Linked DNA regions of Homo sapiens: region 2 is linked to region 1. The links come from fine-mapping of genetic effects on gene expression. Tissue or cell type: monocytes after LPS. Region 1 holds a variant in brackets; the other region holds the start of a gene. All regions are shown on one strand. Distances are from middle to middle.

What was found. PIP is the estimated chance that this variant, and not a neighbour inherited with it, causes the effect.
Region 2: it holds the start of PPP2R3A, and the variant in region 1 is fine-mapped to the expression of PPP2R3A in monocytes after LPS (Fairfax 2014, PIP 0.95).

The regions. Positions count from the first base shown.
Region 1 is chr3:135,741,092-135,746,295 of GRCh38, reverse strand. No RefSeq gene overlaps it. Among named protein-coding and RNA genes, the nearest start is that of PPP2R3A, 220 kb to the left of the region's middle. The variant ATCCAT/T (reference allele first, on the strand shown) is at 2,373.
Region 2 is chr3:135,963,018-135,968,147 of GRCh38, reverse strand. It overlaps PPP2R3A (protein phosphatase 2 regulatory subunit B''alpha), which reads right to left and starts at 2,420. Exons shown (of 14, transcript NM_002718.5): 1 at 2,299-2,420. RefSeq lists silencers at 1,944-2,223, 2,354-2,583 and an enhancer at 2,028-2,846.

The sequences.
Region 1 (5,204 bases):
CTAGGAAGGATTTCTTGGATGCCAGGCATTTCTCACACTGTAACAGATGTCAAGCTACTTGCAATGAACAGGATATCAGTCAAGCCACTTGGGTGCCCAGCACTCTTGTACACCCTTTCTAAGTTTGGGGAATTTCTCATTTACTGAGTCTGTGCCTCAAGTAGAAAGCCAGAAATGGGCTTTCCAAGCTTCCCTTGTATAGAATGCAAGCCTAAGTTCCTGACCAGAGGCACCTGTGTCTGGCTTCAGTTAGGAAGCCAGTGATGCTAGGAAGCAGGTGTCCAGAGGAATTTATTCTGGTGAGAGAAGGGACATAGATATTTAGCATCTAGATGCAGCAATCACAGAGTTGATTGTGGAAACACACAGTGCTCAGTGCTGTGGGTGGGACCTGTGGTTTCTGTGTCAGTGGGGATGCTGATGGGGACCCCATGAAAAAAATCTGGAGGATACTGTGATTGATCCACTGTTCCTGGCTGTAGGGCTTCCCGGAGACACTCCAGAGAACTAGCAACACTTTTTAATAATTTCATTTTCTTCTTAAATCAGCTAGGGAGTGTTCTTTTGTCCACACCTAAGAACCTTGACTGGTACAACAGGTAACTGAGGGCGCTTATAGAGTCTCTGGAGACTTTTAGAAGTAGGAAAAACACTTGGCTGTCAGTTCAGTATGATCAGAGTATGTATCAGTCAGGGTTCTTGGTTGCAAACAACAGAAACCAACTCTTTGTATTTTAAGCAGAAAAGAAATCTATTGAGGTTTCAGTGATTCAATGAGATGCTGAAGAATCAGTACGAAATATGGACAAAAATTGAGAGCTTGAGTTAAGAACCCTCTTAGGACAACTGGGCCAGGAAGCATCCTTTGCTTCTCTAGGGTAGCGCTTGACCTGTCATTAGACACCAGGAATTAGATACCATTATGGCTGCCAGGAATAAACCTGACTATCCCAGAGTCTTCATACCACTCACTCTAGCTTCTGGATAAGGGGTCTATCTGTCTGAATTTCCAGGGAATACATACAGGCAGAACCCCCAACCTTTGGACTTCTGAGGTAAGAGGCTGGGTACTGAACCCTACCAGCATTACACACAGGGCAACATTGACTCAAAGAGAAGGAGGAGTTAGATACAGCAATAATAGATGTCCATATCGGGGCTGGAAAAGGCAGTCACATGCAGCCTCATTGATCCTTGCATGGTTGCATATGAGTGTGTCGTCAGACCTGGAACATTTTCTTATATAGCGATAAAAAGCCGTCACAGCCTATGCTAGACTGATTGCCCTGTTTAGGAGTATCTTTCCCTGTTCTGGATTTGATATTAACTTTTTTGTTTTGCTTAAGTATATGCATCATGTGGCACCACACCTGGCAATCCCACTGCTATATCTGTTCACAACACAGTCCTTTGCCTTTAATACAAGAGGAGTGCATGCAGACAATCTCCCTGCATCAGCTCCAGGGCTGGCTTACTGGCCATGGGAGACCAATGGTCACTATTGAAGCTGACCTTGCTCTGTCTTTTCTCTAAGATGCTGTTCCAACCAGTGCCTCTGGGAGTTGTGTCTTTCTTGGTAATCTTGACATCTACAAACCATGCAGTGTGTTGACATTTTGATACTGCCGCTCCTGGTGATATGCAACAGGTCTCACTTGCTTGACAAGGGCACGTGTCTTTAGCTTAATGCTATAAGATGTTGAGCTGTAAGAGATAAATGCAGGACAAACTCCTAACAGATAAAGAGGCCTGTATTAGTCAGGGTTCTCTAGAGGGACAGAACTGGTGGAATAGTCATATATATAAAGAGGAGTTTATTAAGTACTAACTCATATGATCACAATATCCCACAATAGTCCGTCTGCAGGCTGAGGAGCAAGGAGAGCCAGTCAAAGCTCCAAAACTGAAGAACTTGGAGTCTGATGTTCGAGGACAGGAAGCATCCGGCACGGGAGAAAGGTGCAGGCTGGGAGGCTAGGCCAGTCTCTCTTTTCACATTTTTCTGCCTGCTTATATTGTAGCCACTCTGGCAGCTGATTAGATTGTGCCCACCCAGATTAAGGGTGGGTCTGCCTTTCCCACCCACTGATTCGAATGTTAATCTCCTTTGGCAACACCCTCACAGACACACCTAGGATCACTACTTTGTATCCTTCAATCCAATCAAGTTGACACTCAGTGTTAACCAGCAAAAGTCCTCTATGCTGCAAAAATCAATGATGGGACAAAAAAATCACTGTCTCATCCTGGTTTTTATTGTTTATTTATATACTCTATCCCCTTTTTATGTTACATTTCCCCCCATATTTAAAGCAACTGCTGGAACAATGGTATCACATGCTCCATGATTCATCCATCCATCCATCCATCCA[ATCCAT/T]CCATCCATCCATCCATCCATCCATCCATCCATCTATCCACCTGTCTATCTATCTATTCACCCAGTAAGCATTTACTATGAACCTCCTCTGGGCGTGCCCCAGAAAGTTGCTGGTGATGCAAGAATTAATGAAGCGGTCTCTATTTATTTATTTATTTATTTTTATTTTGAGACTGAGTTTCCCTCTTGTCACCCAGGCTGGAGTGCAATGGCGTGATCTTGGCTCACTGCAACCTCCGCCTCGTGGTTCAAGTGGATTCTCCTGCCTCAGCCTCCCAAGTAGCTGGATTACAGGTGTGTGCAACCATGCCCGGCTAATTTTTATATTATTAGTAGAGACAGGGTTTCACCACGTTGGCCAGGCTGGTCTCGAACTCCTGACCTCAGGTGATCGGCCCACCTTGGCCTCCCAAAGTGCTGGGATTACAGGTGTGAGCCACCATGCCCAGCCAGCAGTATCTTTAAGTAGCTCAGTCAGTGAGGGAGTTGCTATGCAAATAGAGAATTACAATATAAGGTGTATTAGTTTTCCGTTGCTGTGCAAAAAGTCACCACAAATTTAGTGGCTTAAAACAATACTGATTTATTAGCTCACATTTCTGTAGGTCAGAAACCCATTATGGTATATCAAGTTCAGGGCATCAGAAGGCTGAAATGGAGGTATTGGCTGGACTGACTTCTTGTTTGGAGGCTGTGGAATAATCTACTTCCAAGCTCATCCTTGTTGGCAGAATCCAGTTCCTCAAGGTCATAGGACTAAAGTCCCCATTTCCTTGTTAGCTGTCAGCCAGAGACAGTTCTCAGCCCCTTGAGGCTGCTCTTAGATCTTTGCCCAAGGGTCCCTCCATCTCAGCAGCTGAGAATCTTCCTCATGTTGAATCTCTCTGACTTTTATTTTTGCAACCAGCTGGAGAAAGTACTGTTTTGAAAGCACTGTTTTTAAAGCACTCTTGTGATTAGGTCAAGACCACCTGATTAATCTTCCTATTTTAAGGTCAACCAAATAGCATATACTATATAACATAATGTAATTACAGGACTATAATCCATTATAATTGATGAAGGATTTTTCTTGACCCCTTTGTCAGACTTGCAACGGGGGTGCCCTGTTTACTTGGCTTACTGGGCTCAACTTCTTGCAGGAGGGAGCATGTGAGTGAGTGAATGCGGGATCTGATTGGGTGCTTTAAGGCGCCAGCAGGAGCAGGTTCTATGTGGGCCTCAAGGGATGTCGGTGCCCCGCTGGGGGAGCCTGCAACCCCCGAAGCCCCAGGGGATGTGTTACAATGCTCTCTTAGCTCTGCTGTCTGTGGACAGTGGTGTGTTATCAGCTCAGTGGGCCCCTTGCCTTGTTGCATGGAGTGGCTGCCCTCCATTAGTGAGGGCAGAGGGCCAGTGTGACAGCCTTTTTTGGGTACCCACACTTGGTAGGTCCTGATTGTCTGGCATCCAAGAAGAATGAGGTCACCCAGACACTTGAAGGATGGTGAAGGTGGATAATTTTATTAAGCAATGGGAAATGGCTCTCAGCAGAGAGGGGAGCTGGAGAGGGCACAAGACGGGCAGATAATCTTCCCCTAAAGTCCAGCTGTCTCTAGTCAGCTCTTCCCTGTAGTTAAGCAATCTCTCTGAAGTTAAGCTGTCTCTCCTCTGAAGTCCAGTTGTCCCTCTGAAGTCAAGTCACCTCTCTCCAGTCAAGCTGCTTCTCTCTCCTTTACTGACTGATTCTGGGGTCTTTATAGGCACAGCATGTGGGGCGAGGTGGGCCATAGGTAGTTTTGGAAAAGGGAACATTTGACTGGTAAAAAGACATTATTCAGAAAGAACCAACTGGGAGAGAGCCGGCAAACAGGGATAGAAGTTCTCACTTTGGGCCGTGGGTTTCAGGCTTTTCGGCTCAAAGGTGGGGTTTCACTGGAGACCTGTCCCCAGTCTGCCTAGAATTTCTCTGCCTCCTGCCTCTATCATTATCATTGGCCCAGAAATTATGCAGCGCATAATTATGAAATTATGTACACTGGGAGGGGGTGTATGGAAAATCTTTGGGACATCACAGAATCCTGCCTACTATGCAAAGTGGCATGTGCTATTTTGGAGGCATACACAAGGAATCATAGGAGTACATAGTTTTAGAGGTGGGAGAAGCCAGGGAAGTCTTTTTGGAGGGCTATTATCTGTAGGGGTGCCTTTGGAAGGATGTCAAAAGTTATTCAGTTGACAGGGTTGAGAAGCACTTAGCCCTACAAAGTGAAGATTGGTCATAGGACTGTTCCAGCTAGAAGGAATGACTTATGTGGGGCCAGAGGTATGACACAGCATGGTGTATTTGGAAATAACAAGTTTGGGGTTACTGGAGAGTAAATATTTTCCAAGGAAGGGAGTGGTGAGATGGGGACCTGGAGAGGCCCGGAGGAGTCCAGACTAAGGATCTGGGAGAATCAGATCTTTGGGCCCTCTCACAAAATGTTTGATTTGGGGTGGGGCCCAATAATTTGCGTTTCTAACAAGCTCCCAGGTGATACGGATGCTGCTGGCCTGGGGCCACACTTTCAGAACTGCTGCTCTGCAGAATGAATGGGAAGAGAGCAATTCTGTGGGTCCAGTAGGAGGTCATGGTACTAGTCTAGCAGGAGATAATGAAGCTCTGACCGGGTTCAGAGCCAGGGCATTGAGGGTGGGTATAGTGTGGAGTAAATGGGATTTAAAAAAAGATTTAGGAGGGAGGCAGTACTGGGGTATGGGTGTAAGAGACAAGGCAGTTAGGGCTGACCCCTGCTCTGGAGAGACCTGGAAGGAATCTTAGCCATGACCCAATCCAGCCCTCTAA
Region 2 (5,130 bases), 220 kb before region 1:
AGAAATCTGTTAAATAAATAACTGTTCCCGCCCTCAAGCTTAGTATAGTAAACACCTAAGCAAATGAGGACAATGCTGCGTCACTAGTGTTAAGGCAGCAGTCTGCTCACAACAGTGGTTCTTAACTAAGGGTGATTTTGGTCCTCCTGGGGGACATTTGCGATGTCTGTAAGCATTTTTGATGTTCACAACTGTGTGTGTGGAGTGCTACTGGTATCTATTCCTCAGTAAAGGTTAGAAATGCTGCTAAACATCCTACGCTGCACATGATAGCCCTCCACAACTAGAAATTACCTGGCCTAAAATGTCAACAGAACTACAAATGAGAAACTCTGACTCAGAGGACGATAACACTCAAAAGAGCTGTCAATTGCACTTCTGAGGGTGGTGATTTTTAAATATCTGTTTTCTTTTTGGGGGATGGGGGGTGTCAAGCAAAGCTTCAGGGCAGAGGTGAAGCTTCAGCTGTGTGTTTGAAAGGTAACAGGGGCCAGATCAGTGGGGACTATGTTTGTCAGGAGCAAGGAGGAGTCTCTGAAGAGTTTAAAAGCAAAGTTATGATTTGAACAGGTGCCCCCAAGTACCCTATACTCCAAAATTATTCATTTCCTTTTTTCCTTTCTCGCTGAAACAAAACTTCCATTCTCTCAGAGTAGCTGGTTTCAGCTGAACATTAAGGCCAAATTAATTCAGCCCAAGATAAAGTCAGATAGGCCCTTCACTCTCCAGAATGTTAAGCTACATTTTAAAATATGCAAATACTTATGAGTACAAATAAATCTTTAACTGCTCAATGTTCAGGTTGTCAGTGCATAAAGCTATTTTTGAACTCAACAGCCAGATTGGCCCCAGTAACACTTTCCCAAAGCTTTGTTTTTTAAAAACCTTTTTGATCTGTTTCCCCGTTCTCCTAGAAATCTCCTAGATTTCTGAGCTCCTAGATTGTATAAAAGATCTAAGTTTTTTTCCACAAGTATCTCATGCCATTAAGTTCTTCTGCCAGAGGTGATAAAAGGGCCATTTGGATGCAATAAATGTAAATAAATTGTGTGTGTAAATTAGCAGTGGCTTAGAAAATTTTTAAAAGGCTTTCATGGACTACTGAAAGAAACTGAGATAATTTTTAACATACCACCAAGAAAAAAAAACAACAGTTTTACTACAACACAAGCCGGCTGCCTACTGAACTGGACGCCCATGCTCTGACCTAGTATGGCAATTCTTAGGGTCTAGGCGCTGGGTTCTGTTTACAAGAAACTAAGGCCTGAGACTAAGGAAGAACAAAGAAAAATGCCTGGCACCAAAGGTGTGGGGGATGTTTTGTACATAAATGAAGATTTGAGGAGGAATACTTCCTCAGATGTTGGAAGGAATTACTCTTTTTTTGCTTACGTGTTAAGAATTTAATGTTTTCAGGCCATTTCCTAATTAGAAAATACCTTATAATTTACAAACAATAATTTGTCTTCCCCTACATTTGCTGACCACCAAGACTGGATAAAATTTCCTTAAGCTTTACCAGAGTGGGAGGACTGGGAATAACGGGAGCACAACAGAGTTCGGATGCAACATCAACTCCAAGCCCGGCCAGCTGGTTTCCATCGAGAGGTCCCCCAGGAGAACGCCCCTCCGCGGCGGCGGCGGCCAGGTCGGCGCGGGAGAGACCCACCGAGGCGCTCCAGCGCGGCCGCGGTGCAGGACCAGGGGCCGCCCGGCCTCCGTTTACCTTTGTTTCAGGTACCCCGGCTCCTGGCGGGCCGGGAATCCCGTCCGCGGCCCGGAGCTGGTGACACATCCTTCTTTGGCCAAGTCGGGCCGAGGTTGGGCAGGGGGCGGGGAAGGAAAAGAAAGCCTCAGCGCCTAACGACGTGACTCTCAGTTCTTCCAAAACGCTGGCATTTGTTTCTCTGCCAGGCTTTCCTGTTAACAAGTTCCCGAGGGCTGTGCGGGCGAACTGGCCCAGGAGCCCTGAAAAGTGGGAGGGCCCAGGCCGCCCCCGCCTACCCTCCTCCGCGGGCGCCCCTGGGGCAGGCAATTTCCACACCTCCCTGGTGCCGTGTCCCGGGACCGGCCGGCCGCGCCGAGGCAACGCACCGCACCGCACCGCACCGACTGGAATTCCGACTTCCACAGCCCAATCAGCTCCGTGTGGCCCCTCTGGCCAGGCCGGTCCCCGCCCCCAGGTCCCGGCCCCGCCCGCCCCGGCCTCCGCGCGCCGCCCCGAGCCTCGCCACCCCCTCGGGCCGGGACGAGGGAGCTGAAGGCTCCAGGCCGTGCGGCCAGTGTTCCTTTGCCTACCTCGTTGCCCGCGGCTCCTCCTCCGGCGGCTCAGCTCGCGGGCAGCGCTTGCCTCCAAGCCTCCCCGCGGCGCGGACTCTCGGGCTACGAATGCGGCGCGTGAAGAGCGGAGGCCCGAGCGCGCCCCGCCCAGCCACCCGCAGGCCCCTACCTCCTTCTCCTCCTCCTCCTCCTCCTCCTCGGCCCCACCCTCGGCGGCCGGCCCGCCCGGAGCCCCGCCCACGCGCCAGGCCCCGCCCACTCTCCGGCCCCGCCCCCAGCCTACGCCCCGCCCCTCTGGCCAAGGCAGGAAGGGGGCCTCCAGGGGCGCCGCGAGAGCCGCTGTGGCCTCGGCGAGGGCAGTCTCCTGTATGGCGGCGCCGCGGGGATGCGATTCGTGGTGGTCGCTGCTGTTTGACAGATTCGAGTCTCTTGCTCGGATTTATTACTGTTATTGTCATCGTCAATATTGTCATCGTTGTTATTGTTATCGTCATTAGTTGTGTTGCCCTCTTCAAGGGGCCTTCAAGGAGGCCCCTTGAGGGCAGCGCGCTGCTGGCCAGACATTCCCTGGCGCTCCTGTCTTCCCACAGTCCTGCACCTGCGCCACATTTCACTCAGCCCAAGAAGTTGTGTGAATTTTAAAAGAAGTGATACTTATTTTTAACTGTTATTGTTAACTGTTACTGTTAAATAAAACACAAATATAGACAGCCATATAAAACCAATGTACAGCTTAATGGATTATTCCGATACACACACCCTTATAACCACTCGCCAGATTTATTAATAACACCGTGTAATATGGTCTGCTCTGAAACAGAACCTCATTAATAGCTGGAAGGACATAGCCTGGAAGGGCCTCCCAAAATTGCCCTCCTTCTAACTGCCACAGTACTCAAATGTGACAGGTCCATAATCATGCCCTCTCCAAGAATATATTTGTAAAATGGAAATTTCTCCAGAATTAGGAACCTCCAATTGAGTATCTTCGTAAAAATCTTGATAAAATGATAAATCTATAAATATATAAGCATATAAATAACAATAAATAAGTCAATCAGTTGGGTTGAATACCATGAGTAAGGAGCATGGGGGTGGGGGATGGGAGGTATGTAAAGACTTAAAAGGATTAGGTGGGCTGTGAGGACAGGTCCTGGGCACCTGGGTTGTTCTCACTGTCTCCCCAGCACCTAGCATAGCACCAAGCATATACTAGGTGCCATATGTGTGTGTGTATATATGTGCATTGTACATATATGCACATATATGTGTGTGTGTGTGTATAGCACAAGGAAAGAAAAAATTATGTAAGATAACCCCAAACAAGCTTTACATACTGAAATTTCACCCAAGGTCAATCCTCCCAGTAGCTAAAGTGTGCTCTGTGAGATGCCTTGATGCCCTAGAGAGAAAGAGACCATTTTACTTTCAACTTTCTACTGCTTTTCCATTTCAAAAGCCCTTTCACATGCATATGGTATCTTATTTGAGACTGAGAGCAACTCTGTGAAAAATGCAGGGCAGGATAGGACTCTGCAAAGGTCACAGTGCAATGCATATCAGTAAGAAGGAAAAGTACACAATGTACCATAAAACAATGTTAAAACTGCTGACCCTGGCAACCTGGATTCTTGGTTTGTCTCAACAGTTTTATTGCCAATGTTTTTACATTAGGGCTCCTTTGGCCCTTTTGCCATGCATTTATACACATTATAACTTGAATGTATAAAGGACACAATACGTGACTGGAAATTTGATTCAATACAATAGAGTTAGTCTCTCTGTCATGAGGACCATGGTGAATTGGGGCTAGAGAGTTGCCAATTCACCACAATGTATTGAGTACTCAGACTGTACTAGGTGGTAGGAATACAAATGATATAAAATAAAGAAGATACAGGGGCTGGGCGTGGTGGCTCACGCTTGAAATCCCAGCACTTTGGGAGGCCAAGGAGGGTGGATCACCTGAGGCCAGGAGTTTGAGACCAGCCTGGTAAACATGGTGAAAACCCATCTCTACTAAAAATACAAAAATTAGCCAGGCGTGGTGGCACGCGTCTGTAATCCCAGCTACTCAGAAGGCTGAGGCGGGAGAATCACTTGAACCCGGGAGGTGGAGGTTGCAGTGAGCCGAGATCTCTCCATTGCACTCCAGCCTGGGTGATCAGAGTGAAACTCTGTCAATCTTTGTTCTCAAGGAGCTTATGGCCAAGTAAGGGAGAAAGATTTGAAAATAAATGTTTAAATTACATGACGGTAGGGGAGCAGTCATGAGCACAATTAATTCTATGAGGTATAGGAAGAGAGTAGGGCAAGTCTTATTAGACAAGAAAACATCTGAAATTTTTTTTAGTATAAAAATATCAAATATTGAAAACAGAGACAGAATAATATAATTAACTACTATGCACCCATTACTTGGCTTCAACAATTATCCCATGACCAATTTGTTCCATCTGTACCCTCACCTTTTCTTTCCCTCCTTGGATTATTTTAAGGCAAATCACATGGAGCATTATTATTTCATCCATAAATATTTCACTATGCATCTCTAAATGATAAGGTCTATTTTTAAAAACAACCACAAAATCATTAAATTGTCTTTTAAAGTAATAATTTATTAACATCTAGACAGTGTTCAAAATTTCCCAATTTTCTCATAAATGTTTCATGTAGTTTACTTCTTCCAGTCATGATCCAAACAAGTTCCTCACAATGCATTTGGTTAAAATGTCTTACACCTTTTTCTTTCCTTGTACTTTTATATTGAAGAAATAGATTGTTATAAGGAGTTTCCCACATTCTGCATTTTGCTGATTGCTGTGATGTTCTTTAACATGTGCCTCTAAC